Homo sapiens: one gene and its partner. The protein of the gene in region 1 interacts with the protein of each later gene in a pairwise test. Each region holds a gene or a part of one and is shown in the gene's direction. Other genes may lie near its edges.

Evidence for each region. The genes of interacting proteins can lie anywhere in the genome.
Region 2: the proteins of CHST1 (region 1) and STOM interact in binary tests that used the Homo sapiens proteins (3 or more experiments, as listed by UniProt).

What each region holds. Positions count from the first base shown.
Region 1 is NC_000011.10:45,659,001-45,662,679, reverse strand, and holds part of CHST1 (carbohydrate sulfotransferase 1), read left to right. Parts: intron 1-3,679. UniProt on the Homo sapiens protein: Sulfotransferase that utilizes 3'-phospho-5'-adenylyl sulfate (PAPS) as sulfonate donor to catalyze the transfer of sulfate to position 6 of internal galactose (Gal) residues of keratan.
Region 2 is NC_000009.12:121,360,149-121,363,827, reverse strand, and holds part of STOM (stomatin), read left to right. Parts: intron 1-3,679. UniProt on the Homo sapiens protein: Regulates ion channel activity and transmembrane ion transport. Regulates ASIC2 and ASIC3 channel activity.

The sequences.
Region 1 (3,679 bases):
CAAATGCAGTAATATATGAGACACACTTAGAATGGTGCCATAGTAAGTGTTCCAAAGCATCATTCCTAGGAATTAAGTCAGGACATTGGAAGAAACTCCCCAAGCATGCTCACCTAGATCCTTACCCTAGGTCCCAGCAGGTGGTCCTGACATCTTGCTGGGCTGGCCTCCTGCTTTGAAACAGCCTCTCCCCAGCGGCCCCGGCACACCCCCCGCTGGGAAGCAGCCAGCCATTTTTTTCTACGGAGCATTTGTTTCAGGTTCCTGAGGGCCTGGCACAGTGCTAGGCAGCCCTGGGTTTTGTTCAGACCCTACCTGTCTAGGAGCCTTGTGGGAGTAAATCCAGATGGACAGGCAGCTCCCTGCCTCAGCCTTCCCGCTAAAGGCAGGGGTCAGCCCTGGAGCCCCTAGGGGTTGAGGCAGATGGAGAGGAGCAGAAGAGGTCCAGGCAGAGATGGTGGCCCTCTGTGACAGAGTAAAGGGGTTGGGGTGGGGCAGGCCACTGTCCCTGATCCTAGAGAGGCTGGTTCATCTGGCTGGAGAAGCATCTGTCTTCCTCTTGATCAGCCAGAGAGGGACAGGGAGCTCTTCAGAAAGGTAACAGATCCTGCACACTCTCCTAACCCCAAGTTAGAACCTCTAGTGCTCAATTGTTCCCAGCATGCCCTGAGAGTCTGGACAGGCTTGGGGCTCCAGCCTGAGCAGCTGCTGATCTGTTATTGTCCTGCCTGCTGGGGCAGGGTGAGGGGCTCCCCGCCCCAGTGCCTGCCTCAGCAGCATTGAGGAGTGCAGCTAGGGGAGATTCTGAGTGCCACTGATGCCTTACCCGGTCTCCCTTACCGGCCCTTCTCTCTCACTGCAGCCCTCCCCTCCATGGCCCTCAGGTTCCCTGCTCCTTGGCAGGGCTCCCTCCTCCCCTCCTGGAAGATGGGCTTCAGCTCCAGGCTCCTTAAAGACATCCCATGCCCATCACAACCAGCTGTCAGAGCTGCAAAGCCTGCTCTTTAGCTGCCGACCCTTCTCTTTCACAGATGGGAAAACAGATTTCTGGGGTTTGCTTGTATGGCCAGAGCCCAAGCTAGTTGTAGCCTCTCTCAGCTACACACCAGCCCTGGGGATGCCCTTCCCTTCTTGCTGGCTCTCCAAGCAGCCCCAGCTGCTGCCGGCACCCCCATGGACACCCCTTGCCAGCTCTCCGGTTCCTGCCAAGGTTCTACCCCCGGCAGGTCTCTCTGGACTGTTTTGCTGTCCTCATTGGTGTTCACAACACCTTCCAATTTAATATCCTCTGCAAATTTCATTAACGGACTGTTTACTCCCTCTCTCAGGATCATTAATGAAGATGTTAGATAAGATCTGACCCAATGCTGAGGCTTGGCAGCCCTGCCCCCACTCCCAGACTTGCGGCCCTCCAGCCCCTTCCTCTGGGCTTGCCTTCTCCACCCGGGGCCCTTGGGACCTGCCCCCTCCTGCTATTATGCCCCATGACAAGTGCTTAGGGCCAAGTCTGTTTGAATTAATTTTGTAAGATTACTCGAGGCGCTGTATCAAATGCTTTGCTAAAAATCAAGATATATTACCCTGCCTGCGTTTCCTTCATCTACCCGTCTTGTAATTCTATCAAGAAAGCTATCAAGTTTGTCAGGCATGATTTGTTCTTTATAAATCCCCACGGTGCCACATGGGGGCACAGGGTTCCCGCGTTTTCTAAATGTTTAGAGATTCCCTCTTTGTGTTTGCTCCTTGATTAGAGCTGGAAGGCGGTGGGCTGGGAATTGTCAGGAATGCTGTCTCCTTCTCAGGGATGGGGAAGAAGGCGTGGCTTCTTTTCTCCCAAGTTTCTGCCAGTGTCAGTGAGTTGTTTAGGACTCACTGAGTCCCTGCAGTGTGTGGGGGGCCCCAAGCTGGGCACTTGGGGAGGAGGGATAGGATAGAGCTAGGGGAGGAGATGGAGGGGGGCTGGTGCTGTCCTTCAAGGATTCTGCAGGGCAGGTGAAACAGACAGACGAGCCTGCTGCAGACATTCTGAAGGTACCACTGATTGAGAGATTACTGTGTGCCAGTCACTATGCTAACAGCTTTATATGCCAGATGCCATTTAAGCCCCTCTCCTGCCCTGGGAGAGGAGTGTGACCTCCCTTCACCTGAGTACCTGAGAATCAGAAAGTGTTAAGGCTGCCCAGGACTCAAGGTCTGGGTTTCACCCTCTGTTTATGCTGTTATGCTGCTCCTAGCCATTTAAGACACACAAAAAGGGTCAACAAAGCTGAATGGAGTAATTTGGACATTTTAGGAGGTCAGAGTGGGGATGGAAGGGAAGCCTGTAGGGAAAGCTTTGGAGAGGTGAGGACCTCACTCGCATATGAACCTCACATACAACCCCCACAGCCTGAAATCCGTTCGTTCTCTTCCTGCCACTTCTGAGTTGCATGAACAAATCTCTTAACTTCTCTGAGCCTCAGTCCCTCACCTGTGAAATTGATTCAGCTGTAGTTCTTACCCCTAGGCATGTGGAGAGGATTCAATGAGGTGAGGCGTGAAAGGGTCATACCATGGTGCTAGGCCGCCACTGTATATGAGCAGCCGCCATTGTGTTCTACAATGGAGGTCCCTGTTGATGGCAGGCAGAGACACTCATCTGGTTGGCCATATGCCCAGTGGATGGAGCTGTGGCCCCTCCTAATGCTCTTCACCCAGCAGAAGAGGGGTGACAGGGTGAGCCTCACTGGCATCCTGGCCCAGGGGCATCCTTGGGACCAGCTGTGGGCTGGTGATAAGCTTTGGGCTTAGAGCAGGGAAGCCTCAACTGGGCAGAGAGCCCAAACCCGATGCCCCATTCCAGACTGTTTCAGGCCAGATGGTAATAAAGACATTCGTTGGTGTCTTTTTGGTGGCATAGGATTTGGGCATTCCTGGGCTCCCTGGTCATAAAACCACTCAAAGTTCTCACTGCTTGGCTAGCCCAGACCCAGAGTCACTGTGTGGGGAGCACAGTGTGTTTGGACTTCTGCCCATCAGGTGCAGCAGTCCCATGTCCACACCCACTTGGGATCATTTTCATTCTTGTCGTTCAGCTGGGGAGGGAAAACCCTCTGGGAAGCGGTGAGATGGCACACACCTATTGGTATGCCAGGGGAACCAACCAGGAAGGGCAGCATTGGCAGCCCTCAAGCCCCACCAGTGGATGCCCCAGGGACCTGACCCTGGGGGATGGCCAGTAGGTATCAGATGCACCAGTATCTGGGTCGGGGGTGAATGCTGTGATCGAGATCGGCACCAATGTGTCCTGGGACCCTGGCGGCAACCTTGGCCCCGGTGCTCCCTCTCCCTCCCTCTAGCTGGGTGATGCTCTTGGGTGTGGCCTGGGGGTTTTAGCTCTGTGATTAGGGCCAGGGCTTGGGATTCTTTAGAGCCGAGTCTGAATCCTAGCGCCACCACAGACTAGCTGTGCGTGCTTGAACAAGTTCCCACACTTGCTGAGCCTCGCTGCTCCTCGTCTGTGAAAGGTGGCAGTAGCCCCTGGCCTGTGGGATGCATCCCCTGACAGAAGCCAGGTCTGTGATCATCTCTGAGTATCCACGTCGGCAGCCTCCTCCATCCCATGTGACAGTCTCAAGGCTCTGGGTCCTATTCATTCTCCACCCCCAGTCCTCGTCCCCACGGGGCCAGCCAGGCTTAA
Region 2 (3,679 bases), on another chromosome or scaffold:
AATAGCTGGAAGAAAGATCAAATGCATTATTTAATTTATGCAAGTCTTCCTCCTCAAATAAATAGTTGGCTGACATAAAACAGGAACAGCGTGTAACAGCCCATTGTCCAAATCTAGCTGACTCTGTTTCTGTATGTCCCACAAGTTATGAAATAGCTCTTATATTTTTAAATGATTTTAAAAAGGCAAAAGAATACTTTTTCATTACACATGAAAATTATGTGAAATTCAGATTTATGTCCATAAGTTTTATTGGAACAGCTGTGCTGTTTATGTAGGTACTATCTATGGCTTCTTTTGCACTGCAAAAGTAGAGTTGAGTAGTTGCAACAGACTGCAAAGCCCAAAATATTTAGTTCCTGGTTCTTTACAGGAAAAGTTTGCCAATCCTGACAAAGAATCACTGATGAAGAATCATAGTGGCCAAAAGTAACACTTAATCCTGAATACATATGTTTTTAAGAAGAAAGTTCAAAAATTGCCAAGACTTTTCAATTTGGCCTACTGTTACCCCTAAAAAGTGCTGCTGCAACTGAATAGCATGTGTTTTTGAGACTAAACTTCCAGCCTTTCTGTCTTGCCCCATCCAGGCAGGACTGCTCTCATCAATTTACAACATGAAGTGTTTTATTTGCACTCTGTGAAGGCAGAAGGAAAAAAGTGTCCGTTAAAAAGTGGCAGTTTAGGTATTTCAGTAATTCCTTAGCCCATCCTTTCTTATTGTGTAGGATAATGCTTATGACTCACAGTCAGATTCTCAGCAGAGGAAATCCAGTTATCTGTTGAACTTTACAATAATAAAATCTCAGTGATGAGTGGATTTATTACTCCACATGATTTCCAGTAGTGCTAAGGTTAATAGATCTGAAAGTAAATCAGCTGATGGGGAACGGGGACAACTACAGCCCTCTGGACTAATCAGCCTGTGTTGTCATCTTGGAAAGAATGTTTAACTGCCTTTCCAGAAACTTACCCAACAAAAATTACTACACAACAAATTTCATTTGTTTCATGGTTTGCTTGGTTTTCTTTTGTTTCTTCCTACAAGGTCTTTAGCCTTATTACTTTAGAACTTCAGGAGGCATATTTTAACACCTACTTCACAGATTTTTGTAAACATTATAAATACTCATGTATGTAAGGAGGAGCTACATGTGGCTAACATGTCATAGGAATTCATAAATGGTAGTTATTAGGAGTAGTAACAAAAGATACCTTCAGAATGAGAGAATTTTAAGAGTTGTATAATTTCATCTTTTCAGAAAAATTAACTTACACAGGAAATAAGCAGGTACAGAAACACTGCTAAATATATATTCAATGCAGCAGTTTCTAAGTGAGAAATTTGGACACAACAGATTTCATCATATAAAATGGAATTAATTAATTAATCTTTAATAATGATAAAGAATATGTGCTGATATGAAAAAATGTTCATAACATGGATGGGAGGGAGAAGATTTTAAATCACTGTGTATACCATTCTTTCATTATTGAAAAAATACAGGCTAGAAAAGGTTTAAAAGACGTATATCAAGGCAAAAAACATCCAGAGATAAAGTATAGATAATGTTTCTGTTTGTTGAGCTATCATTTCTAATTTTTATAGTAACTTTTGCTTTTAAAGTAAAAAAGCAATTTTAGAAAATGTATGTGAGTTTCCTGGAGGTAAGCCCAACTTGAATGTTCAATACAAAAATTCAAATGTACAGGCTTATGTCCATATTCAGACCCTTCTTTGATTAGTTAAAAGTTTATTCTACTGCCATTTTGGTAATAAAAGAAAAAAAAATACTCTAAACCAGGAGTCCCCAACTCCCAGGCCACAGACGGATCAGATCAGCAACATTAGATTCTCATAAGAGCACAAACCCTATTGTGAACTGCACATATGAGGGATCTAGGTTGTGTATTCCTTATGAGAACCTAATGTCTGATGATCTGTGGTGGAACAGTTTCATCCCAAAACCATGTTCCCCAACCCTTTCCTGTGGAAAAATTGTCTTCCACGAAACTGGTCCCTGGTGCCAAAAAGGTTGGGGACCATTGCTCTAAACTATGGCAAAGTAGTATTTACAACCAAGTATCATAGGATCCCTAATTTTTAGGAACATTCTCAACCAGCAAAATACCCACAAGTGGCCGGGTGCATTGGCTCACGCCTGTAATCCCAGCACTTTGGGAGGCCGAGGCCGGAGGATCACGAGGTCAGGAGATCAAGACCATCCTGGCTAACACGGTGAAACTCCGTCTCTACTAAAAATACAAAAAATTAGCCAGGCATGGTGGTGGGCACCTGTAGTCCCAGCTACTGGGGAGGCTGAGGCAAGAGAATGGCGTGAACCCAGGGGGCAGAGCTTGCAGTGAGCCGAGATCTCGCCACTGCACTCCAGCCTGGGCGACAGAGTGAGATTACATCTAAAAAAAAAAAAAAAAAAAAAAAAAAAGTCCACAAGTGTATTAACCAAAATATCACTATTTGTCCCTTTCCCCATAAAACTGGTAGGAAGGATTCAGTCCTAAAGTAATACATGGGAAACTTGAAGGAAATGAATTTCCTGAGATTTTAGTGAGTGAGAATTTCTTTTCTCTTATTCCCAGAAGTGGTAGATGACTAAGGGTTCATTTATAAGCCTGCTAGAGTTTAAGCCTCACCTCTGAGCTATGCATTTATAGCACAACATGCTATAAATAGACACAGCTGGAATTAAGAGGGCTTCCTCTGTAAAAACATCAGATTTCAGTCTCAGAACTCTAGTGATGCATTCCCAACTTAGATACTGTGTACCTTTTTGAGGGGTAACCAGGTGGGGAAGAATTTTGAGAGGTGAAGGTAGGATACTTTCATTTTAAAGTCATTAGAAAAATATGAAAGTGCCATTTTCCCAGTGTATACACTGATTATTTCTAGCCAAGCATTTGATATGTGAAAGACCAAATCCAGTTTTCAAAATGTGTACTTAATTCCTTGTTCCTGGTGATTTGCAATCCCATATACACATCTGGGGTTCTCAAAAACACAATGTGACATGGGAACTGACACAAAAAAAACTGGGCTGAACTTTTTGGCTTGTCCTCATGTAGATCATAAATGAACTTTTTGAGAGTCTTTGAATGTCCCAGCCTAGCCAGACTGGGGGCAGGTATGAAGCAAATGGCAAATTAAATTGTTTAAGAGGCTTTTGATCAAAAAGGGTAAATGCTATTTTCCCATTTTTCTTCATGAAGATACAAACACTTAAGTAAAATAGAAGGATTACAGAAAACTATCATCTACATTTACTGATCATTTTATCTGTATTCTACAAGGCCAGCCTAATAATCTTTACTTTCCACCGGTAAGGAAACTAAGGTTCAAAGAGGTAAAGATCATGCAACTAAGAAGTATCAGAAGTGAAATTCAAACATAGTTACTCCTCGTTCTCAGGGAATCTCAGTGTAATAAGGGATATAAATGCACAAGAAATTAAAATATTAGATTAAAAAATAATAAAAGATTAAAATCCTACATTGGAAGGTCAATTAAAAATAAATAAAAAATAAAAGATTAGACAAGATATAAGTGCCATAAGATAATTTTCAAAAAATGCTATCGAGATTCAAAGGAAAGAAAAAGACATATCTAGCTAGAAAACTTGCTGAGAAGTATTTTATTTTATATCTATTCTACTATGCAGGA